3 linked regions of the Homo sapiens genome follow. The protein of the gene in region 2 binds, or shares a complex with, the protein of the main gene of each other region. Each region holds a gene or a part of one and is shown on either strand. Other genes may lie near its edges. A codon is read from its position in the direction of its gene.

What was found. The genes of interacting proteins can lie anywhere in the genome.
Region 1: the proteins of FGFR4 (region 2) and FGF23 are in contact, whole or in part, in a cryo-EM structure (PDB 7YSW), measured with the Homo sapiens proteins. Residues at the interface, in NP_001341913.1 of Homo sapiens: Glu156, Lys157, Lys158, Leu159, His160, Ala161, Val162, Pro163, Asn166, Asp240, Leu242, Glu243, Arg244, Ser245, Pro246, Lys272, Val273, Tyr274, Ser275, Asp276, Ala277, Gln278, Pro279, His280, Ala308, Asp309, Ile310, Ser312, Gly336, Asn337; in NP_065689.1 of Homo sapiens: Leu32 (codon at 3,240), Gly33 (codon at 3,237), Ser35 (codon at 3,231), Trp36 (codon at 3,228), Gly37 (codon at 3,225), Tyr43 (codon at 3,207), Ala45 (codon at 3,201), Thr46 (codon at 3,198), Ala47 (codon at 3,195), Arg48 (codon at 3,192), Asn49 (codon at 3,189), Ser50 (codon at 3,186), Ile75, Arg76, Ser77, Glu78, Asp79, Ala80, Gly81, Val83, Val84, Tyr93, His117, Gln118, Thr119, Asn122, Gly123, Tyr124, Asp125, Leu158.
Region 3: the proteins of FGFR4 (region 2) and KL are in contact, whole or in part, in a cryo-EM structure (PDB 7YSW), measured with the Homo sapiens proteins. Residues at the interface, in NP_001341913.1 of Homo sapiens: Asp266, Gln282, Leu284, His286, Ile287, Ile289, Gly295, Ala296, Asp297, Gly298, Phe299, Pro300, Tyr301, Val302, Gln303, Val304, Leu305, Lys306, Asn311, Ser312, Glu314, Leu318, Tyr319, Leu320, Arg321, Asn322, Asp327, Thr332, Leu334, Leu341; in NP_004786.2 of Homo sapiens: Ser539, Gln540, Phe541, Thr542, Asp543, Asn545, Val546, Tyr547, Leu548, Trp549, Asp550, Val551, His553, Ser554, Lys555, Arg556, Leu557, Ile558, Val563, Thr565, Arg568, Tyr571, Val573, Ala576, Gln579, Pro580, Glu625, Arg628.

What each region holds. Positions count from the first base shown.
Region 1 is NC_000012.12:4,376,250-4,383,772, forward strand, and holds the start of FGF23 (fibroblast growth factor 23 precursor), read right to left. Parts: upstream 3,464-7,523; 5' UTR 3,334-3,463; coding exon 3,123-3,333; intron 1-3,122. UniProt on the Homo sapiens protein: Regulator of phosphate homeostasis. Inhibits renal tubular phosphate transport by reducing SLC34A1 levels. Up-regulates EGR1 expression in the presence of KL. Acts directly on the parathyroid to decrease PTH secretion. Regulator of vitamin-D metabolism.
Region 2 is NC_000005.10:177,082,088-177,090,126, reverse strand, and holds the start of FGFR4 (fibroblast growth factor receptor 4 isoform 1 precursor), read right to left. Parts: upstream 3,213-8,039; 5' UTR 3,050-3,212; intron 578-3,049; 5' UTR 525-577; coding exon 434-524; intron 1-433. UniProt on the Homo sapiens protein: Tyrosine-protein kinase that acts as a cell-surface receptor for fibroblast growth factors and plays a role in the regulation of cell proliferation, differentiation and migration, and in regulation of lipid metabolism, bile acid biosynthesis, glucose uptake, vitamin D metabolism and phosphate homeostasis.
Region 3 is NC_000013.11:33,012,091-33,019,885, reverse strand, and holds the start of KL (klotho precursor), read right to left. Parts: upstream 3,446-7,795; coding exon 2,627-3,445; intron 1-2,626. Other genes in the region: translation initiation factor IF-2-like, read left to right, coding at 3,444-4,050, 6,251-6,441. UniProt on the Homo sapiens protein: May have weak glycosidase activity towards glucuronylated steroids. However, it lacks essential active site Glu residues at positions 239 and 872, suggesting it may be inactive as a glycosidase in vivo.

The DNA of each region.
Region 1 (7,523 bases), on a different chromosome or scaffold from region 2:
GCAGGAGATAACTTCATTTTGTCAAGTCCAGTGACCCAAAGATGGGTTGTGCACTCAACTCTTAAGAATTTCTTACAGCAAAGTAATAAGATAAACCAGAATTCAATAGAAATGGATAATTAGGAGGGGAAAAAATACCCCTCACATTTTAGGTTTCCATCAGTGTAAAAACATTGCTTAACAGTCACTGATGAGGTCATTACAAATCCTTCACCAGACATTTAATTAGTTGTGCTTCTTATCTACATGCATTAATCTTTCCTCTTTCTTTTGGGTAACGTTTTTTTTTTGAGACGGAGTCTCACTCTGTCACCCAGGCTGGAGCACAGTGGTGCGATCTCAGCTCACTGCAAGCTCCACCTCTGGGGTACAAGCGATTCTTCTGCCTCAGCCTCCCAAGTAGCTGTGACTACAGGCAGGCACCACACCCCACTAATTTTTGTATTTTTAGTAGAGACAGGGTTTCCCCATGTTGGCCAGACTGGTCTCGAACCCCTGACTTCAAGTGATCCTCCCACCTCGGCCTCCCAAAGTGCTGAGATTATACGCGTGAGCCACCGCATCTGGCCTCTTTTGGGTAACTTTTAATTGTAGTGTGTAATTTTTTCCTGCACTTTTTTTTTCCCATAATACACATGACAACTCATTGAACAGTACAAAAAGTTATCTACATAGACTAGGAAAAGTAGATCTCCCTCCCACTACCCTGACCCGAAGTTCCCCTCCCCGCATTCATGTTTAACTCTTTAAAGATGCAATGTTTAGCTAGTGCCTATGTCTAAGGAAACAAAATCACATTTCTATTTTTAAAAATCTGAAGTCAGTTCAATTTATTTTGCTGCTTCTCAGTCATTTTAATTCACTCTAACTAGCACTCAGTGATCCCTTGGGGCCTGATACGAGGTGGGCTTTCAAGGAAAAGGTCTAAGTTCAGACTGCCAGCCCAGGAGGTTGACTCTTCACACTCACTCCCCACCGTAGCCGGCCTGTTCTGTTCTACCCTAATTCTTGTTCAGGAAGAAACGTCTTTAAGGAGTTCCTTTCAGCAACGGGATTCCAGGATTCGAGACAAGTTGTATAAACATTCTCTAGTTGGATGCAGCCCTTTCCATCTAAGAGAATCAAAATAATTTACCATAATCTACTATTCTGCATTTTAAATCACATATAGTCTTTTTTTTTTTTTTTTTTTTTTTTTTGAGATGGAGTCTCGCTCTGTCACCCAGGCTGGAGTGCAGTGGCGCAATCTCGGCTCACTGCAAGCTCTGCCTCCCGGGTTCACGCCATTCTCCTGCCTCAGCCTCCCAAGTAGCTGGGACTACAGGCGCCTGCCACCACGCCTGGCTAATTTTTTGTATTTTTAGTAGAGATGGGGTTTCACTGTGTTAGCCAGGATGGTCTCAATCTCCTGACCTCGTGATCTGCCTGCCTCGGCCTCCCAGAGTGCTGGGATTACAGGCGTGAGCCACCACACCTGGCCCACATATAGTCTTGAATTAGAGTAAGGGTGTCCCCTCCATGAGACATGCAAAATTGCATTTCCTGAAAGTCTGGTAGTGAGCTGGCTGACAAGGTAGGACGACAGACCATGAGGTCCTTGAAGGGTTGTGTCTTAGTTTTCAGCCACAGCGCTTGGTAGAATGCCAGGCACATGGTAGATCCTATTAAATATCCATTGAATAAAATGAACAACACTTCGGGTGCATCAAGTGTATCCAGATTTAATTGAAATTTTTGCCATGAGACTCAAACTTGGTTTCCAAGATGTTGACTCCTGAGTCTTACTATATTCTCTGGAGTTCTGGAACCTGTTTGGTATTCGGAGAGAACTTTCCTCTCTCCTTTTATCTCCTGTCAATATGCATTTAGTACTTGAAGAGGTTAAACTGTCAATTTCGCATGTTATATATCTTGCAACTTAATTTTGCATGTTGTATATCTTGCAACCAGGTTTAAGGACCTTTGGAGCCTAGAAGAATAAATGCCTCACACACAGCAAGGTCACAGCAAAAATAATTAATTTATTTATTACAACAATAAAGGGCAAATCATAATTCCTATGTTTTCTTTAGTTAGAGATTGTCTAACTAATTTTTCTTTCCTTTAATTTGAGCTATATTGGATCAGTTTGCATTTTTCTGTATGCTTTGAGGTGTTTTCTCACGTTTTCTTAAAATAGAAGATCCAGTCTTTTTCAATATCTATCCCTGCTTTCACCACATTACCCCTTATATAGGTGCACACAAAGGGACCCTCATTTGAATCATTGCTAATGGATTGATTATTGTGGATTGTGATCCAATTCTCCACAAACCTGATCTTTAAAAACATTCCAGTTGTCTCATGTTGCCAATAAGTTTCTAACTAGCTTGACTTGCTACTGACTGGACACCTTTCAGTTCCACAGAGAAGAATCACCAACTCATACTGGGTACCTGGGTACCTGGGTGTCTGAAACACCCATTAAACCTGTTGGATGGATGGATGGATGGATGGATGGATGGATGGATGGATGGATGGATGGATGCATGGACAAATGAATGGGTGGATGGGTTGTATACTTGGCCATTCTCACCAAGACAACATACATGGACAGTCTGTCTTTAATACATTTTTCCAAGAATTTTTATAAGGCCAGAGTTGGAAAGAGCCCCCAGATTTATCTATAACAATCTGGGTATGACCCAGGAATCTTTACAACCTCCCTAGTTAACCCAGTCCAAAGTCCATGAGCTGAAACTTAGTGTCTGTTGATCTGCCTGGCTTCTTTTTCTCTTAGACTCCTTGCCTTTCTTTCTGTACATTTTTTCAATCTTTTGACGGGGCAAAGGGAACATGGCTCCTACTGTGGGAAGGGTTTTAGTTGAAATAAAAATTATTCATATTGAGAAAAACCAGCAAATGCTAATTAGGAGAGTGACAGAATCTTCCCCTAAGTTTTAAATACACACGCACACACACACACACACAAACACACACACACACAAAGACAATAAGTGGTTCCTGGGCAGAAAGCTAGGAGGGTTGGATTAGCCCTCCAGTCTAGTCCCCAACCTCCCCAAGCCTCCTGTAGATGGACAACAAGGGTGCTCCCCTTCTTCCCAGCCTGAAGCCCTACTCACTGTAGATGGTCTGATGGGGTGCGCCATCCACATGGCCATTCTTGTGGATCTGCAGGTGGTAGCTGTTCCTGGCTGTGGCTGTGTACAGGTGGATCAGGCCACCCCAGCTGGAGCCGAGCAGTGGGGAGGCATTGGGATAGGCTCTGAGGACGCTCATGCTGCAGACGCTGCACAAGGCACAGACCCAGAGCCTGAGGCGGGCCCCCAACATCGTGCCCTGCTCTGAGTGGCTGGTGCTGAGATTGAAACCTGACACTCCTGTCGGGACTCTCCTGGCCCAGGCCTTACTGGCCTTTTCCTTCTCCCTTGCAAGTAGCTGGTGTGAGGATCCTAGACTGGATTCCCTCCTTTTTGCCGTCAGACTTTTAAAGGGTAGCAGTGTGACATCAAACAGGAAAAACTCCACTGTCCACATCCTCTGTGTTGTAATCAGCCCATTGAAAGAAAGTGCAAAGACCCCGGAGGCGCACGGAAGGCACGTCGGTTCCAGACACACACACCCCTCAATTTCAAGCCAACGCTCCAAAAAATGAATGACGTGTGGGCAAAAGTTATCTGCCACTCTGGGCTGTCTGTTGACCTGTCCCACTTCCATCAGGAAATGTGAAGGCAGCCAGCGGTTCCCAAAAAAAATCCAGCTTCAGTCAAGCAGTCAACCGACTCCTAGGCAATTAATCTCCTGTCGAGTTTACTTATTTTGGTTTTCTTTAAATTCCAATCAGCAAGTATGTATCCAGTGCTTAATCTGTGAGCAGGATTTGGTGGGTAGCTTGCAGGATATAGAGATACATGACACCATCAGGCAGATGGCATCCTCTAAGAACACCCACTTCATGAAAGATGGGAGCTAGGAGCAGGGGCACAAAAGCCAAAGTTGCCATTTTGGGAAGATTTTGAAATGGAAGAAAAAGAAGTAAGGCCTTGAGGTCAGTGAACATGCCAAGGTTCAGTTTCTCAGCTTCCTTAGTCTGGACTTCACTGAATATGCCAAGGTTCAATTTCTCAATTTCCCTAGTTTGGACTATCGAGGGCAACTAAACTAGTAGTCTCTCCAGTAGTAAGGAGACTCATTCAGAGACCTCATGGGGATTGGAACAGCTGCTGGCTGAGCACTGGGGATCCGAGCCTCAGGACAGGGTGTCCCCACATTTAGTGTCTGTACATGAGTGCTCAGCTTGGTGTTGGATGCCTGCCTGCAGATGCTGTTCACAGTGAGCCCTCTGGGAAGCTACACCTGATGTCGGGTGGAATAGTCCTGGCACATACAGTCTAAAGGGGAGCAAGCTACTGGAACACACACCCGAAAAAACACACAAGGAGTTTGCTATTCTTCCAGTTTCCCTGTACTGAGTATATGCCATGTACAGGCATCAAGCTAGACTCATGTACAGGTTGATATAGGAGACAGCAAGATGTGATTCCTATCTTGAGGAGCTCAAATCTAATGCAGGAGGCAGATAAAAATAAGTAACTATAATACAAAATGAGTGCAAGCTTACAGGTATAGACAGAAAGAGATGGCATTTGTTACCCTACATTTGTACAGTTTTTTTTTATAGTTTACAAAGCATTTTCACATCTATTAGCTTATTTGAACCTCACTGCCACTCTGTGAGATAGGCACTCCATGCATTATCAAGATTTTAATACTTTACATGAAGAAATGGAAATCTTAGTGTTTCCATGTCCAAAGGCACAAAGCAAATAAATGGTAGAGCCAGGACAAGGTCTTCTCCTTCCCTAGGCTGCTTCTCCAAAGAATCACAGCAAGAACTAACGCTCATGGAGAGCTTACTGTTCCACTTACTGCTCTAAGTGCTTTACTTGTAGTAACCCATTTCATCTTCAGAATAACTCTTTGAGGAGATGCTGTTATTTTCTTTATATAGATCAGGAAACTGATCTATGCACACAGTTTAAGTAACTTGCCTAGAGATAGAAAGGTAACATGTGGAAGAGGTTGGATTTGAATCCAGGTCTGGCCCCAAGACCTCCTAAGCACTTTTCAAGGTGTCCAAACCCATACAACATGTTAGAGCTAAAGCCATGAGAGCCAGGAGCTTGGTAAAAAAGTGCAGGTGGCAAAGCAGTCCTCTGTTATTCTCTAAAAACCCAGGCTTTTACCCAGGATGAATCTCTAGGACACATGGTGCTTGTCTCCCCAGGGTTGAGTGGAAGAAGTATGACATGAAATGTTTATATGTAAAACAGTCTTCTTTACTAATAGCCACAGAATGGATTATAAATATAATGCTACGTCTTAGCTAATTGAAGAAATAGCTAGCTTTCAGAATTGAGATGCAAATCACTTAGGAACATTTGCCCTGCATTTCTTATTCTGGTTGTGAAAGGTAAAGAGATGGGAAGTAATTATAAGGCAATCAGCAGCCATTGAGAACCTTCTCCATGTAAGAGATGAAAGGGAGGGTGTAGGACTACAAAGCAGGACTAACTCCTCTAGGGGCTCCCAGTGTAACTGAGCAGGGAACATCTTCGTTCAATACAAGGCACTGTGTGGGAGGAGCTTCATTACTAGGAGCAAATTAGTGAAGATGTGGTACTATATTTATAAACCATTCTGTGGCCATTACTAAAGAAGCCTGCTTTATACATAAACATTTAATGTCATACATCTTCCAAACAACCCTGGGGAGACAAGCACTATGTACCCTAGAGATTCACCCCGGGTAAAGACCTGGGTTTCCGAGAGAATCATGGAGGAGTGCTTTGCTGCCTGCACTTTTTTACCAAGCTCCTTCACAAAAAAGAAATGTTGACCAGGCGTGGTGGTTCATGCCTGTAATCCCAGCACTTTGGGGGGCCGAGGTGGGCAGATCACTTGAGGTCAGGAGTTCGAGACCAGCCTGGCCAACACGGTGAAACCCTGTCTAAACCCCGTTTAGTAGAAACCCTGTCTCTATTAAAAATACAAAAAAATTAGCTGGGCGTATTGTGTAATCTCAGCTACCTGGGAGGCTGAGGCAGGAGAATCACTTGAACTGGGAGGTGGAGATTGCAGTGAGTTGAGATTGCACCACTGCACTCCAGCCTGGATGACAGGGCGAGGATCTGTCACCAAAAAAAAAAAAAAAAAAGGTCATGGTGGGTAGATGCTGTGGTCAAGGAGGGCTTTGAGGGAAGGAGAGAACTGAGGGAGCTTTGTAGGATACACAGAGAAGGGTTTTCCCCAGCACCTGCCAAGCATGATGGAGAGGGAGCACAGGTGTCTTGGGATAAGTCCACAGCCATTCGGTCATTCCCCTAGCTCCTGGAGCGACTGGGGAAGGGGCTCCTCCGTGGCCACCTCAGCTTGTCTTATTAGGAAAGAGAGCCCTGTGCCAGCTTACCCAGGTCCAAAGCCTCCCCTCCAAGAAGAAGCCCTGTGTGCTTAGCATCTGGCTCTAATGGCAGAGTCCAGCCCAGAGGAGTAGACTTATTTTTAAGGAGGATGGGAGGAGAAGCAGCATTTCCCACTTAGAGAGAGTAAAGGAAGGCGCAAGAATCTCAGATTAATTCTCCCCATTTGAGATAGGGAAACACTGAGAGCGGAGATGAAGATTTGCCCATTGGAACACGGAGACAGCAGAATGTCCAGCTCCAGGCTGAACTCCCTACCAGTGGCTTCCAAATCTGGCTGCTCACTGGAATTACCTGTGGAGCTTTAAAGCCATAATTGCCCCAGGACTAATCTTAGACCTACTGAATCTGCAGGGGCAAAAGTCAGTTATTTGTACTTTATTCAAAGCCACCTGGGAGATTCTAATTCTCCACACCAGATGTGGCTGATACTAAAGTACTTATCAATAAACAGGCTTTGAGCGCCAACCACACATCAAGCACTGGAAATAGTACACAGAGACTAAGGCCCTCTTCAGTGGCAGGCTCAACTTTCCGTTCCCTTCTAGGATGTCCATCCTAACTGCAGGTCAAGATGTAAATGGGCCTTTCTAGGGAATTTAGTACTGAATGCTAAATCAGTACCTCGTGCTGACAAGTACCCTGTCCTTGAGTCCAGTGCATGGTCTCCTCTGAAGCTTCAGTGGGTAAGAGAAGGGAGAGGCCAGGACATGTCGGTTCCTGTCCTTTGCACCTAGAGGGCACTCCTCCGTCACAGTTCAGGTCCAAGGGTCTGGGAACCAGTGTGACCTTAGGAGCCCAAAGAGAAACACAGATAGATACCAGCTGTGAACAGGAAGCCCAGGGAGGAGGCCCTGGGTTTGTGCTGTTTGGACGTCACTGTCCTTGGTTCCCAGGTAGCTACCTGAATGCAGCAGATAGGCTGGTCCCATGGCAGGCAGGGAAACCTGTTGTCTCCAGCCTGGTTTGGAACCCACTTCTCTGGCATTAAGAGAATTTGCCCCGGGAGCTGTGTGGAAGCATCAAGTCTAGTCCCTGCATTTA
Region 2 (8,039 bases):
CACACACATACGGACACACACACACACAAGGCACATGCTGTTGGTGCCACATACAGGGTCATGCTGCACCGGGGCATATCACCCTCATAATGCTTATACCACACATGCTGCCTGGACCTCCTAGGTCACACACCCAGTGCACAGAACACACACACACACGCACACACACCCAGGTAAGGAGCTCACCACCAGCTCTGCAGCCCAGCTTAGGGCCCTGCGCCCTGCAAGGCCAGTCCTCTCTCGCAGACACAGTGATAGATGAATGCTTGCTGGAAGCCAGGCACTGACTGAGTCTCAGTGGTTGAGCCCTGCCCTGCCGCCACCTTCTCAGGGCCTGGGCAAGGATCCTTTCCAGCTTTGCTCAGCCCAGCAGCCCCCTCCTGGTGCCCACTCTTCCCACCCCTGCCACCCTCTCCCACCTCAGAAGCCATACCAAGCTCCACTTCCTCAGAGGCCTCCAGGGACAAGACTGGAGGCCCAGGCACACTCAGCAGGACCCCCAACAGGGCCAGCAGCAGCCGCATCTCCTTCTCACAGCTCTCAGGGACCCAAGCTGGACTTCCCACCAACTGCCTTCCTAAAATAGGGAGGGAAAAGAGCTCCTGCTACACGTGCACCTTTGTGGGGGCTTTTCCCTTATTTTGCAGATAAGGAAACTGAGACAGGAAGTGGCCAGCAGATGTGTCCAAGTCCCTGGCCAGGCTGTGGCAGTGCAGACTGGAACCAGCTCTGTAGTAGCCAGAGCCTAAGGCCTCCCCACGGTAGGTTGTGCAAGGGGTCTGGGCTGGGCTTCCTGCTCTCCCTGAGTCCTGCTGGGACCCTGGCACACGTTCACAGAAAGCAGTTTTGGGATTCTTTTTTGGAGGGAAGCAGAGAACGGAGACATATCTTCTGCATGCTCTCGGCACACATAATTTCTTTTTTGCTAAATAAATGAATTGATTGCAGAAGAGCCAAAAAAGAAAGTGAAAAATGACACAAGGTCAAACTTCAGCATCTGGATGGCATCTGATCCGATCCCCACTCCTTACAGCATTACTGACATTTCCAGGGCTGGGTGGTCACAACTGACAAGGCGGCCCCTTCCGTGGCAAGCAGGACCGCGACCCTGGATACCTCTGCTTGTTATGCACCAACTCCATCTGAGGCACACACGGTTTTGTAAAGAATACAGACCCTAATTTTCCATCTGCCAGAGCCAAGTTCAAATCCTGACTCTCACCAACTTGTAATTCCTTGTCTCTGTCTCTCTCTGGCTTACTATCCTCATAGGACTGTTTTGAGGATAAAAGAGAGAACGTGCGTCGGCACGCAGAGTGTTGGAATGTTCTCCTCCCTGTGCCCGGCCCTAGAACGGTTAACCTGTTGCCCTGGGTCTGCCCTTAGCCAGTCACCTCTGGTTCGGATGCTGTTACTGTCAGGCTGTGATGTACACACACCCCAGCTGGCTATCCTCTTCCAAATGCTACCAAGGACGCCTCTGTTCCCCAAAATAGAACACTCAGAACTGAGTCTCAGCTGGGACAAAGGAATCGGTGACCACTGCAGTCCTAGGGGCCTATGGGTGGCACTGGTGTCTCTGGATCTACCCTGCGTGGGAAGCCTATCACACCTCCTCCTCCTTGGTCACTGCCACTCCACTTCCAGTCCATCTGGCTTCCCCTGCCCCTTCTCAAGGCAGGTCATGGCCATCTCTTGCATGGGCCTCTGGAAACATCCTCTCCCTCGGCTCTTCAACCTTCATCTTCCAGCAGAGTTTTAAAAAACTACAAGTCGGCTGGGCGCGATGGTTCACACCTGTAATCCCAGCACTTTGGGAGGCCGAGGTGGGCGGATCACGAGGTCAGGAGATCGAGAACATCCTGGCTAACACGGTGAAACCCCGTCTCTACTAAAAATACAAAAAATTAGCCGGGCGCGGTGGCGGGCGCCTGTAGTCCCAGCTACTCGGGAGGCTGAGGCAGGAGAATGGCGCGAACCCGGGAGGCGGAGCTTGCAGTGAGCCGAGATCGCGCCACTGCACTCCAGCCTGGGCGACAGAGTGAGACTCCGTCTCAAAAAAAACAAAATAAAAAAATAAAATAAAATAAAAAAACAAACAAAAAAACCTGCAAGTCTGCCATGTCATGCCCCCCAGCTTGCAAGCCCTTAATGGCTACCTGTGCCCAGCAGGATCCAGCTCAACATCCTAGGGCTCCCTCTCTGCCGCTGCCTATCTCTTTGGTCACACCGTCTGCCCCTTCAGGAGCGCTGAAGCCATTGGCTTTCAAAACTGGGCACATGTGCTCTCTTGCCCATCCCTCTGTGCCCCTCATTGCTCTTCTCTACCTGACTCAGATACTGCTGTCTCTGGCCCACCTCAACTCTCGAATCCAGTCGGATCCTCCTTGGTAAAACTCCCTACCAAGCTCGGCTTGGCAGGGAGGGCAGCTCTTTGGGTACACAGCTTGGGCTGGGAGTGGGTGGGGAGGCCCGGGGAGTTTATTCCTACCCCAGGCTGCCCTGATATCAGAGTCCTTAGTCGAGTCACCCATGGCTGCTGACCGCTGACCGACCACCCCCCACGTGGGAATGGAGGGCCTGCCTTAGGCATCAGACAGTCCTGGGTTCTCCTTCAGCCTCCCGCACTCGCGCTGGAGGCCCCCGGGCACTAAGTGACTGAACTTTTCGGGGCCTCAGGTCCCTCATCTCTGCCGCCGGCGCGAAGACAGCCGCAGGGACAAGCGCGCTTGTCCTCCCCCACCCTTGCCGGGCCAGCCTGGGGGGAGGTGCGAATCAATGGGTCCCGAGGGTAGCTGCACAGGGCCAGCCTGCCCCCGCCTCGGTGGGCAATGAGTAACCAGCTCCGCGGCCGGGGTGCTCTTTGGACGGAGCGGGACAAAAGGCCCTGTGTGCACTGCGGGTTACTGATTTACCGCCCCCTCCACCCCCTGCCGCCCGGCGGACGCCCAGGTCCCCTGCGCCGGGAGGGGCAGTCCCCGTAGCCCCGCCGCCTCTCGCCCCCTGGCGGCTGGGAGCGCAGCCCGGGCCCACAAGGGTTCCGGCTCACCTCGAGCCTGCGTGACTCCGCGCCCAGCACAGGGTCCTGCTCACCTGGCTCCTCCTCACCTGGCTCCTCCGCCGCCTCACTCCCAGCTCCAGCCGGCCGCGACCCCTGCACGCGGCAGGGTCCGCAGACAGCCCGAGCGCTCCTCGGCCGGGAGCGAGGAATGTACCCGCGACGGCGGCGTGGCCGCGAGCGGCCCACCTCCTGTCCCACCCCGCCCCTCGGGCCCGCCCCCTCCTGCTCGGGCCCGCCCCTCCTTCCACGCCCCCCCCCCCCCCACCCGGGCCCGCCCACCTCCTGCCACACCCCCTCGGGCCCGCCCCGCCTAGACCAGCTCGAGCCGGAGAGAGGTGTGGCCAGGGGTGGCCAAGATCCCCGCCCACCTGGAGAGCCCCGCCCCCGACCCAGTCAGCCCACTCCCGGGACCCCGCCCCAGCCTATACACACACCCCTACACGCAACCCCCCTATACACACCCCATTCAGGCTCCGCCTCTTTCGCCCCACCCAGGCCCCAGGCCAGGCTCCTAAATTCTAGTCTACTACCCAGCTCTACTCCTTGCTTTTCACCCTTCAGGGAATGCCTGGCTCCCCTGTCTTCTGCGCAGTGCCGTGCAGCGGATAGGAGAACCCCTTCCTTCTGCTCCCTCATTTGTTCCCTGCGCAACCTGCGGAGTGATACTTACAACACAAATCTGACTGTGTCAGCCACTCCCTTAAATTTTCCTATAGATTCCCATAGCTCTTTATACATAGATTGCCATGACCCACGCCTCCTGGCTCCCACCCTGCTACTCCTGGGCAGTTTCACGTACCATTCTCTCTTCCTGGAATGGCCCTTGGTCTGGTTAATTTCATATTATTCTCAGCTCACTTCCTTCAGGAAGCCCTCTGGACTTGCAAGCTCCTCTTAGATGACGTCTCTACTGTGAGGATGGAGAAAGAAACAGGGTGAAGTGGTTCAGAGCACAGACTACAGGGCTGGACGTCATAGGCCCAGCTCTCAGCACCATCACACAAGGCCTCAGTCTTCACTGTCCTTTCAGTAAAACAGGCAAATGATAGTCTCACCCACAAGAGGTTGTTGCAAAAAGTAGACATGTTAGCAGTATGTGTAAGCCTGGCATGCAGCGCTTGCTTTGTAATACTAGCTGTAATTATTTAGGACCTGTTATTTCTTCAGCACGCTTGCCAGAATTGTAACTGAACAGTTAATTATGTAAATAGCTGTGGAATGGCCGGGCACAATGACGGGTGCCTGTAGTTCTAGTTACTAGGAGACTGAGGTAGGAGGACAGCTTGAATTCAGGAGTGTGAGGCCAGCCCTGGCAACATAGTTGCCCTGTCTCTATTTTTCAGTAGAGGAACTGTGTCCTCAGACCTCACCATTAGAGTTCAAGTGTCTGGCATACAGTAGGTGCTCCCAGATAGCTCCGTGCCCACCTGGCTCATGTTTGCCTCACCTGTAAGCACTTCTCTCCTGAGCATCTAGACTGTGGCCAAACCAGGAGGCCAGGCAGCCTCTGATCTCTGCCCATCCCTCACCTGAATCTCAAGCCTTCTCCTTCTCTTAAGGCACCTTGAGAGGAAGGGAAATGGGCTGGGTGCACCTGTGGTCCCAGCTACTTGGGAGGCTGAGGCCAGAGGATTGCTTGAGCCCAGGAAGTCGAGGCAGCAGTGAGCCGTGATCGCTCCACTGCACTGTAGCCTGGGCAACAGGCTATGGAGCGAGACCCTGTCTGAGGCTCAGGTCCTGGTTGTCCCCTCTAGCTAGTGTAGACCCTGTCTTAAGAAGCAACTTCCTTTCTCATTGTTACGCAGGCAAGTCTAGTTCTTTCCACCCTCACTCCCAAAGGGATAGTGGCATATCTTTGCATAACTGTAAGGCCCATTAAAGAGACTTAAAATTGTTTTTTTCTTTTTCTTCTTAAGCGAAAGAATGGTCTCCTCCCAAAGATAAATCAGAAAATAATTGAGGCCAGGCATGGTGGCTCATGCCTATAATCCCAGCACTGTGGGAGGCTGAATCGGGAGGATCGCTTGAACTCAGGAGTTCGAGGCCAGCCTGGGCAACATAGTGAGATCTCGTCTCTATTAAAAATATATATTAGGCTGGGCACGGTGGCTCACGCCTGTAATCTCAGCACTTTGGGAGGCTTAGGTGGGTGGATCACGAGGTCAGGAGTTCAAGACCAACCTGGCAAGATGGTGAAACCCCAGCTCTACTAAAAATACAAAAAAATTAGCCAGGCATGGTGGCATGTGCCTGTAATCTCAGCTACTAGGGAGGCTGAGGCAGAGAATTGCTTGAACCCGGGAGGTGGAGGTTGCAGTGAGCCGAGATCGTGCCATTGCACTCCAGACTGGGTGACAGAGTGAGACTTTGTCTCCAAAAAAAAAAAAAAATATATATATATATATATATGTGTGTGTGTGTGTGTGTGTGTGTGTCTGTGTGTGTCTGTGTGTCTGTGTGTATATACATACACACAGACACACCCACACATATATATGTATATTATAAATTTTTTTTTAATTGGTTATCTTTTAAAAACAATTTGTCCTGGTTCCCTTCTCTAGAGTCCTGCCTTGCTGGAGCTCCCAGGACAGATGAGGCTCCTGGCCCTGGGAGCTGCCTGCCCAGAGGGTACCTTGCCAGACCTCCCGGACTGCTGGAGGGGTTCAGCTCCCTGCCTCTGGCCCTCTGCTGGCTCCCCTTGTGAATGTGGTTGTGGGGGGAGACAGGGTGAGCCGCCAGCTGGAGCTGGACCCCACATGGCTTTCATTCACCTTCCCGGGCATTTCCTGAGTTTACCAGAGCCAAAGACAAACTAAAAGTTTTCATAGCTCAGGTCTTGCAACCTCCTTGTCTCCTGAGATGCGCAAATCCCTCAGATTTGCAACCCTCTGATGTCCCTAGGATATGTTCCCCATATCCCTTGTCTGCCTCCTCTCCCCGCACTCATAACCTTTCACACTGACCCTCCACAGAGGCTGATGCTCCCTCACAAAGTCATTCACTCATTCACTCATTCATCTGAATGATTATTTATTGAAGGTTCATTATGTGGCATCCACTGTTTTAAATCCTGGGGATAAAGCCCCGAATTGGACTCTTTTTCTTTTCTTTTCTTTGGGAGACAGTGTCTTGCTCTGTTGTCCAGGCTGGAGTGCAGTGGTGTGATCTTAGTTCACTGCAAGCTCTGCCTCCTGGGTTCAAGTGATTCTCCTGCCTCAGGCTCCTGAGTAGCTGGGATTACAAATGTGCACTACTACACCTGGCTAATTTTTATATTTTTAGTAGAGACAAGGTTTCACCATATTGACCAGGCTAGTCTCAAACTCCTGACCTCAAGTTATCTGCCCATGTCAGCCTCCTCAAATGCTGGGATTACAGATGTGAGCCACCTCACCTGGCCTGGACCCTACTTCTACCCTTCAAGGGGCTGCTGACATTGTAGTGGGGACAGACAGATAAGTAATCAGTTACAGCCTGGGAGATAAGCTGAGCCAGTCAGGGAGAGCACCTAAGCCTTTCACACTGTCTCACTCTCTTGCTGACACGCAATCTTTCACCAGTCACATTTGCAGTCTCTTTCTCAAAGACATTCAGACACGACTGGGCACAGTGGCTCACTCCTGTAATCCCAGCACTTTGGGAGTCTGAGGTGGGCGGATCACTTGAGGTCAGGAGTTCGAGACCACCCTGGCCAACATGGTAAAACCCCATCTCTACTAAAAATACAAAAATTGGCCAGGCATGGTGGCACACGCTTGTAATCCCAGCTACTGGGGTGGCTGAGGCAGGAGAATCACTTGAACCTGGGAGGCAGATGTTGCATTGAACCAAGATCACGCACTGCACTCTAGCCTGGGAAACAGAGCAAGACCCTGTCTCAAAAAAAAAAAAAAATACATTCAGACACACACACACACACACACACACACTCTCTCTCTCTCTCTCTCTCGCTTAGCAGAGGCAAGAGCCTGTCACCCTAAGATCCTGCTGTTAACCTGCCTCTGCCTCAGTTTCCCCACCCAGAAAGCCGTCATGCTCCAGCTTCCTCTTCTTCCTTTTTTTTTTTTTTTTTTTGTGGAGATGGAGCCTCGCTCTATTGCCCAGGCTGGAGTGCAGTGGCGTGATCTTGGCTCACTGCAACCTCCGCCTCCCAGGCTCAAGCAATTCTCCTGCCTCTCCTGCCTCAGCCTTCCTAGTAGCCGGGACTACAGGCGCCTGCCACCACACCCAGCTAATTTTTGTATTTTTGTAGAGACGGGGTTTCACCATGTTGGCCAGGCTGGTCTCGATCTCCTGACCTCAGGTGATCCACCCGTCTCGGCCTCCCAAAGTGCTGGCATTACAGGCGTGAGCAACGGCTCCCGGCTGCTCCAGCTTCTTTCTTCCTAGGAGTGTTGGGGGAAATGAACGTGTTCCTGTTCCTGAGCTCGTGACTCTTCAGCTCCCGTTACATGCCAGGCATCATGCTGGGTGTTGTACATGGGTTATATCCTTTAATTCTTCCACCAAGCCAAATGGCATAGGAATCCTTAGCTCTGATTTGTAGGTGAAGAAACAAGCTCAGGGAGATGGAATTACTTATTTGAGGTCATCTAGCAAGTGAATTGCAGAACTCGAACCCCTGTCTTCTGGGGCAAAGATGGAGAGCTCGGGATAACTCTCCAGAGTGGGATCATTGATGCTACTGCATCAGATGCTTTCTGTCTCCATCCTTAACTGTGGCCCGGGAAGGTGCAGATTCACCTGAAGGTGAGTGTGTTGGGGAGGGAGGTGTGGGGGCTGGGACTGAGCACTGCACTCCTTGACCTTTTAGCCAGCAGTCCTGAGGAGACACCAGGCCCAGGCAGGGGTTTGCAGACTCTGTGCCTCTGGAATGCTGGGCTGGGCCAGGAGGGTCTCCTGAGGCCAGGTCCTACCCCCCACCTGCCTGGGGGCAGAGTCATCGGGGGGTAGAGGGCAGACGTTGCCTGGTGCC
Region 3 (7,795 bases), on a different chromosome or scaffold from region 2:
GAGAAAAGGTGCATCCTCCTGGATTACACTCAAATGAGCAAAGCAGCCTGAGCTCCAAGCTCTTTGTAGGAGACCTCTCTCTCTCTGTCCCTCCTCCCCTCTCCCCTCTTCTCCTTCTCTTCTGTCTCCTCTCTCTCTCTCTCTCTCTCTCTCACACACACACACACACACACACACCATTTTTGCCAAGGCTCACTCCAGTATGAGGAACCCACAAAGAACACCAAGACCTCCATTCTGAGCAGGGCCTCCATTATTTGTCCTGCTGTTTGTTTGTTCTGCCTCCTGTCCTCCAGGCCATCAATGATTCTTGACTCTCTAGGAGGGGTCAAGCTTCCCATCATCCCAGGGGATCTCCTTAGCCCATTTGTAAGTTAGTGGAAACACAGAGGGAGTGAGGGAAGGGTGCTAGCCAGTCTTTATCCTTCACCAACATCAGATCCCGGAACACAACTGGCCCCTATATCTGTACAGCAGCAATATCTAAGCCCCAGCTAAAATGCCCTTTTATCAAAATCTGCAGAATGTTTTATCTTTTTCAGGTAAGCTCAAATTTTTCTATTCTCGCTTCCCCCAACCCCTATATACACACCGAGAAAGGTCATTGAAAACAGAATGAAAGTATCTCATACAACAAAATTAATTCAAGATACTTTCTTTGACAATGGGAACTCGCTTCTAAATAAGATACAAGAATGACTAAACACCAAACCAAAAGAAATGTGAAAGCAAAATTAATACTTTACACCAACTAACAGTTTGTTTGCAACATCAGCAAATGGAGCATTCACCTGTTACTAATTTCCCTAAATACAAAGTCCACTGCATTTCTAGGAAGGATGGTTAGTGTTTGGCAAATTTTTTGTGTAAGCATTGAAAAATATAACTGAGAAGTTAATCAGAGGGCCATGAGTGGGCAAAAAGATCTAAAACATGTTGATTATTTAAAACACCAGAGCACCAGAGAGCACGCAAGTCTTTATCTTATAATAAAATGATCCTATAAGTCACTATAATAACAATTGACTACTTTGTATATGCAAGTTTATCCTAGGGACTCTAAAAATAGAACTTGTAGGATTTAAATCTAAAGTAAAGATTTTATGGGCATGATCTATTAGATCCTCCAGCTGATCCATTTATTTGCTTCCAGTATGAACTGATAACTTGCTTATGTTTTCTTCAAAAAGTGAGACCATTCTTCCCATAGTTTTTCTATCACCAGCCATACACTGGTGGTCTTTAGAGTTTTTCAGATCCATAAAAGGATTGAAAAAGTATAAGAATCACCGCTCTAAAACATCCTTATGAAAAGACATACATAAGTATGAAATCACAAAAATCACAATGTGTTTCCAAACAAATCCAACATTCTTTTATGGCCAGTAGCAGCAAACAGGTTTTGTGGAACTGACATAAAATCTAATTTAGCCATTATTACAACATTACCAGCAGCTCAGAGCACTAAGTCACCTCAATAACCCAGTACTGCTCTGCCCATATTATCTATGGCTTTAATTAAAAGTGTTTAGAAATGGTTTTAGTACTGACTTTGTTCAGAATATGTGGCTGAATTCTAAATTTAAAAATAAGTCTTCCAGTAGGCCCACAAGTGATCAGAATTGGGTACCAAAAGTTGTACATTTAAACACTTTTATTAAAATGTTTATACATGTACATAAAATATTTTATTGTGATACAAAACTCTGTACAAAGTGTACTAACAACTGACATGATTATAAATGAATCCCCAAAACAATGGTGCCTAAATTTGAACACTAAGGAGAAAAAAGGAGGAAGAAATACTTGAGACAACTTTACCATGGCATAGCAATATTTCCTGCTGTCAAAATTAATAAAATATTTTGCACAAGGGTGTTACAATTAATTTTATCAGGCTAACAATGTCATAAGTGAGGAACCCTTTCAACTGTAGAGAGCACTGTGGAAATATAGATGTGGTAGAACAATCTATATCACCCTGCAGTTGTTTCTGTGTTTCTATGACTAGCTTTGTTTGAGATTGTATAAAGCGGTCTTCACACCCCGGTGAATAAGATTGGTGGATGCAGTTCCCTGCCCTGCCGCAGAAGGGACCTCCAAACACAGTTTAAATCTGACTCTCCGGGAGTTGTGTTTTGACACTTTCACAACAGTGTGAACTTGTGCCACAAGCAAGACAGATCTTATTGGATTAACACTGAACTCGTGACAGCTCCAGAGAGTAATGCTATCTGTGCGGCTTAAGAACAAACGTGTTTCTTTCATCCACCCTGCTCATTCTCTTCCTGCAGTTACTCCTAGCAAATCCTCCCCGCCCTCACCTCTAGGAATTCCTCTACACCCAGAGAAAGGAGTTTCTTTCCTCACTGCGGAAACCTATCACCGCTTCCTTTCCACAGATGGACTCCAAGGGGCACTCACTCGTGTGCCCACTAAGGGATTTCTCTCCTAATTCCACGCCTTCCAAGGGAAGTCAGAACTGCTCAGTTTCCCCCGGTGACCACATACACGTGTCCAAGTGAAGCCTCGTCTGGGGGAGACTCAGTTCCCACACTTCCCCCTGGCCCCTGTGGAGGCCCTCTGTCTCCCCTGCGTGGCCCTCCGCCTGGCCCCTCGCACTCACCAGGAGGAGGTTGTGCGCCACCAGGTACCCGAGCCGCGGGCTGCCCCGGATGCCGGGGGCCAGGCGCCCGGTGGCGTAGCCGTGCCAGGCCACCACGTAGGGGTTGTCGATGGTGATCCAGTACTTGACCTGACCGCCGAAGTGGCGGAAGCAGAGCTCCGCGTAATCCCTGAAGTGGTCGGCCAGGGCGCGGTTGGCCCAGCCGCCGTAGGCGTCCTGCAGGCGCTGGGGCAGGTCCCAGTGGTACAGGGTGACCACGGGCTGCACGCCCAGCTCCCGCAGCCGCTCCAGCAGGCGCCGGTAGTAGCGCAGCCCCTCGCGGTTGGGGACGCCCGCGCTGCCATTGGGGAGCACTCGCGCCCACGAGATGGAGAAGCGGTAGTGAGTGACCCCGAGCTCGCGCAGCGCCTCCGTGTCGCGGAAGACGTTGTTGTAGCTGTCGCTGGCTACGTCCCCGGTGGCGGGCTGCAGCGGCGACGGGGCGCCCAACGGCAGACTGGCGTTCCGGGAGTCTCCCGGGGGTGCCAGGGGGTGGTGGGTGAACGTATCCCAGATGGACGCACCCTTGCCGTGCTGCTGCCAGCCGCCCTCGGTCTGGTAGGCGGCGCTGCCCACGGCCCAGAGGAAGCCGTCGGGGAAGGTGCCCTGGAAGAGGCCCGCGGCCTCGGGGGCAGGAGGCCGCGAGAAACGGGCCCAGGTCTGCGCGCCGTCGCCCGGCTCCGCACGCAGGCGGCGGCCGCCCAGGCCCAGCAGCACCAGCAGCAGCGACAGCGACGGCGGCGGCGGCCGCGGGCGGCGCGGCGGGGCGCTGGCGGGCATGCTGCGCGGGAGCCAGGCTCCGGGGCCCCGCGCCGCGCCCCTTTATGCCCGCGCCCCGCCGCGCCCGCCCGCCCACCGCCGGCGCGCCCACCCCCGCTCCCCGGCGGGCTCCGCTGGCAATAATTACCTGCGAGCCGGGACTGCCTCCGCCCTGGCACTGGGGGCGGGGGCAGGGGCGCCGAGGGCGAGGGGTGCCCGGGAGGGGCGCGGCAGCGGGCAAGGTGCGGCAGGCGTCGCCCGCGGACGTCGGAGAAAGGCACCTGTTTCTCCCAGCTCCCGGGAGCCGTGCAGGACGTTTCGTGGACGCTCAGGTTCATTCTCTTTGCCTGCCGCGCGTCCTCTGAGAGCAGCCCTGGAGCGGCTTCGTCGGGGAGAAAAGGCGCCGACCAACTTTCCCCGACTTGGGGGCGGGATCCTGCCGGGCCCTAGCGGAGCGCGCCGCTGGGGAAGCACCTGCTCTCACTTTTCTCCCACTCGGAGGCCCAAAGAAGCTCCGGCTGGACATTGCTGGAGCCAATTAGGGACTGGCCGAAATCCTAGAGGGACTGCCAGGTGGGACAGCCGAGGGGGAACTTCGCCGTGCGCTGAAAGGGATTCCCCCTTAGGTGAGATGCTCGCGGGGAGACGCGCCCACCCGCGCCCCTCTTTCGAGGAAGACAAAGTAGATTTATGGGTTGCGTTGGGACTGGGGTTTTGCTCTCCCTTTTACTGTTACCTTTTAATAATTTCAAACCAGCACTCTATCTTTGATTAGATCTCTCAGAATACCCTGGTGAACTTCAAATCACAGTCGTTGATTGTTCTCCTGAAAAACCAAACACCAAGTTTCCAATTTTGAGTAAATCTCATTCACCTTTATTATCCTTTGGCATCTGTGTTACCTTTCGGCTCTGACTTAGCAGGTAATCTGTGCAAAGTTGTGCGCACAGGTCTGCTGGAGCGGGAGGTCCCTGGGTCGCACATTTGCCATCTGAGCTGTGGAGGGAAAGGGGAGGGAGAATTTAGCCGGAACACCCATTCCCATCCTCTACAATACAATGGAGCCATGACGTTTTTCCTGTTGCCAAAGAGCCCTTTTGACAGAAGTTGCAGAGCCACAGTGTCCATTTGGATGTGGGTAGATAGGATTGTGGCTAACCGAAATACAGTTGGTGGAGACTGAGAAGGTCTAGGCTCCACCTTTGTGATTTGGGGCAGGAAACCTCTGTAAGCCTAAGTTTCCTCCTCTATAAAATAAGGATGTCCTGTCTGCCCTGCCGCCTCAGAGGCTTGTGAAGTCCAGTGAAAAACTGCGCAAAGGTGACTCAAAGACAGAAAGCCCAGACAAGTGAAGGATCTTGCTAATATCCCTACCTCCCTACCCAGTAAGTCGTGCCTTAGTTTCCTCACCCGTACACGTGTGTTGAATGACCAAGATCCTCACAGAGGTGCATCCATTCTCCCCCAGTGATCTATCTTCCCTGCATTATTTAATACAAATTTAAAGGCAATAACATTTTAAATGTTGCAGATGAAGGTGCTTTTATTAATTCCCCTGAAATATAAGCACAAATTTATTCCAGTATTTTATGAAATATTCCCAACTCCAGCCAGCATATATTACCATGATTAGTAAGATTAAGTCTTCAGATTGAAACAGAGTTACTGCCATTCTGTTAAATATAGCATTTACATTTTTTCAATAAATACGAAATAGCAAACCATGACACTTCAGCAATTTTAAAAAATTACAGCACACAACTTCACTGTCACGCTGTCTTCCAGCTAAATTTAAAAAGCTACGTCTACATGGAGTATCACATTTCCCTTCTAGAAGTGAAGATTGGAGTGTCTGTTGGGTTGTAGCTTGTTAAGTTTCAATTAGAAATGCTTCATGGGTCTCATGGAAAATCGCTTAAGCTAAGTATTCATTTATTGATGTATGGTCTGTTTGCTCAGGGCAGATTTTATCTATTGCTATTTTTACTTGACCAGCAGCATTTTTTAAATTTTAAAGCAGTGATTAAAAAGCAAGACCAAGTTAACTAAACGTTTCACATTTGAAATTTGTCTGCCACATAGGCACATGCATCTCAAAGCTTTAAGCATTCCAAGACATGTTCCCAGATGATTGTTCATTTAACCCAGTGATAAAGATTGCATGATGATTAAACTTTATTTCCAGAACTTTCTGTTTATTAAGGTTCTGTTCATGGTTACTAAGTTCTGGGTTCCACAAGTGTGAGACGGAGTCTCACTCTGTCGCCCAGGCTGGAGTGCAGTGGCATGGTCTCTGCTCACTGCAACCTCTGCCTCCCAGGTTCAAGCAATTCTCCTGTCTCAGCCCCCCAGTAGCTGGGATTATAAGGGCACACCACCACACCTGGCTAATTTTTGTATTTTTAGTAGAGACAGGGTTTCACCATGCTGACCAGGCTGGTCTCAAACTCCTGATCTCCTGTGATCCACCCACCTCGGTCTCCTAAAATGCTGGGATTACAGGTGTGAGACACTGTGCCCGGCCTAGTGCTGCTGCTTATTTATTTTGGCTTTATTTTGGTTTTTATTTTTTACAACCACCTTCAAACATCTGAAACTTGGGTTTCAAATGCAAATAAGAGATTAATTACTTGCTGTGCTTTGAACAGGAAGGTGAAGTTATTGATGCATTGAAGAAAAGGACATTGTAAATTTATTTACTGACTTTGATTTTGGTGACAATTTCAACACTGAAAGTTGTCAACAATCTGATCAACTTTTCCTCCATTCTCCACATTCCTTCATCCAGTGCCTTCCCACCTGTTCTCTTTCCTATTGTGTTCCCAGGACGATGGGAGCCTTTTAACACCAATGGAGCAGGAGATGCACTGATTCACATGCACCCAAATACAACACCAACCCCACAAGCTCTCAGCTCACCAGTCACAGACATCACCTTCTACGGACATATTTTTATTTCACTGAGCTACAACTACGGGCAAGGCAACGACGAGCTGTGTGGAGACTTCAAAACATAGAGGACAACCTCTGCCCTCAAAGACAACATCCAACTGAAGAAAGGATCAAGAAAGATGAAAATAAATAAGTTGTTTGATTATGCTGTGTTAATAAATGACCCATAGAATAATTGTCAGAGAAATTCAGAAGAAGAAGAAATTACCCTATTTTGAGTTGTTTGGAAAAGTTTAACAGAGAAAAATATGACAATATCTGGGGTTTAAAGAGTAAAACTCGCACAAAGACCTGGAGGGAAGGAATCAAGAGATGCCAACACTGAAGAAAAAAACATGTTCATAGTGTATTCGTGGTGAAAAGAAAGGGTTTTTGTGCGCAAGGAAGTAATGGACCAAAATGCAGTAGTCCCAGTGCCTAGAATCATGCTGAGCACAAAACAAGTATTTGTTTAATGAGCAAATGAAAGTAGAGTTTCATTTGTCCAGTTAACAAAATACACAAGTATTCCCTGCCCTCCTCTTTTTAAAATTAATTAATTAATTAATTTTTAACAGACAAAAAATTATATATATTTTCATGTACAGCATGTTATTTTAAAATATATACACATTTGTAGAGTGGCTAAATTGAGCTAATAAACGTATGTATTACCTCACATACTTATTTTTTTTGTGGTAAGAAGACTTAAAATCTGGCCGGGCGTGGTGGCTCACACCTGTAATCCCAGCACTTTGAGAGGCCGAGGCAGGTGGACCACCTAAGGTCAGGAGTTCGAGACCAGCCTGGCCAACATGGTGAAACTCCTGTCTCTACTAAAAATACAAAAATTCACCAACATGGTGGCAGGCACCTGTAATCCCAGCTACTCAGGAGGCTGAGGCAGGAGAATCACTTGAACCCGGGAGGCGGAGGTTGCAGTGAGCTGAGATCACACCACTGTACTCCAGCTTTGGCAACAGAGCAAGAGTCTGTTTCAAAAAAGAAAAAAGAAAAGAAAAGAAGAAAAGAAAGAAAAAGAAGAATACTTAAAATCTACTCTGAGATTTTCAAAAATACAATATATTGTTATTAACTATAGTCACCATGTGGCACTATAGATCTCTTGGCTTATTCCTCCATCTAATTGAAATTTTGCATCCTTCAAGCAATATCTCCCCACCCCTCCACTCCCACATCTCATCTTTTGGCAACCATCGTTCTCCTCTCTGCTTCTGTGAGTTCAACTTTTTCAGACTCCACATATAACTGAGATCATACAGTATTTGTCTTTCTGTGCATGGCTTATTTCATTTAACATAATGCCCTCCAGGTTCATCCATGTCATCACAAATGACAGAATTTCCTTTTTTTTGTAAGGCTGACTAGTATTCCATAGTGGATATATGCCACATTTTCTTTATCCATTTGTTTGTTCAT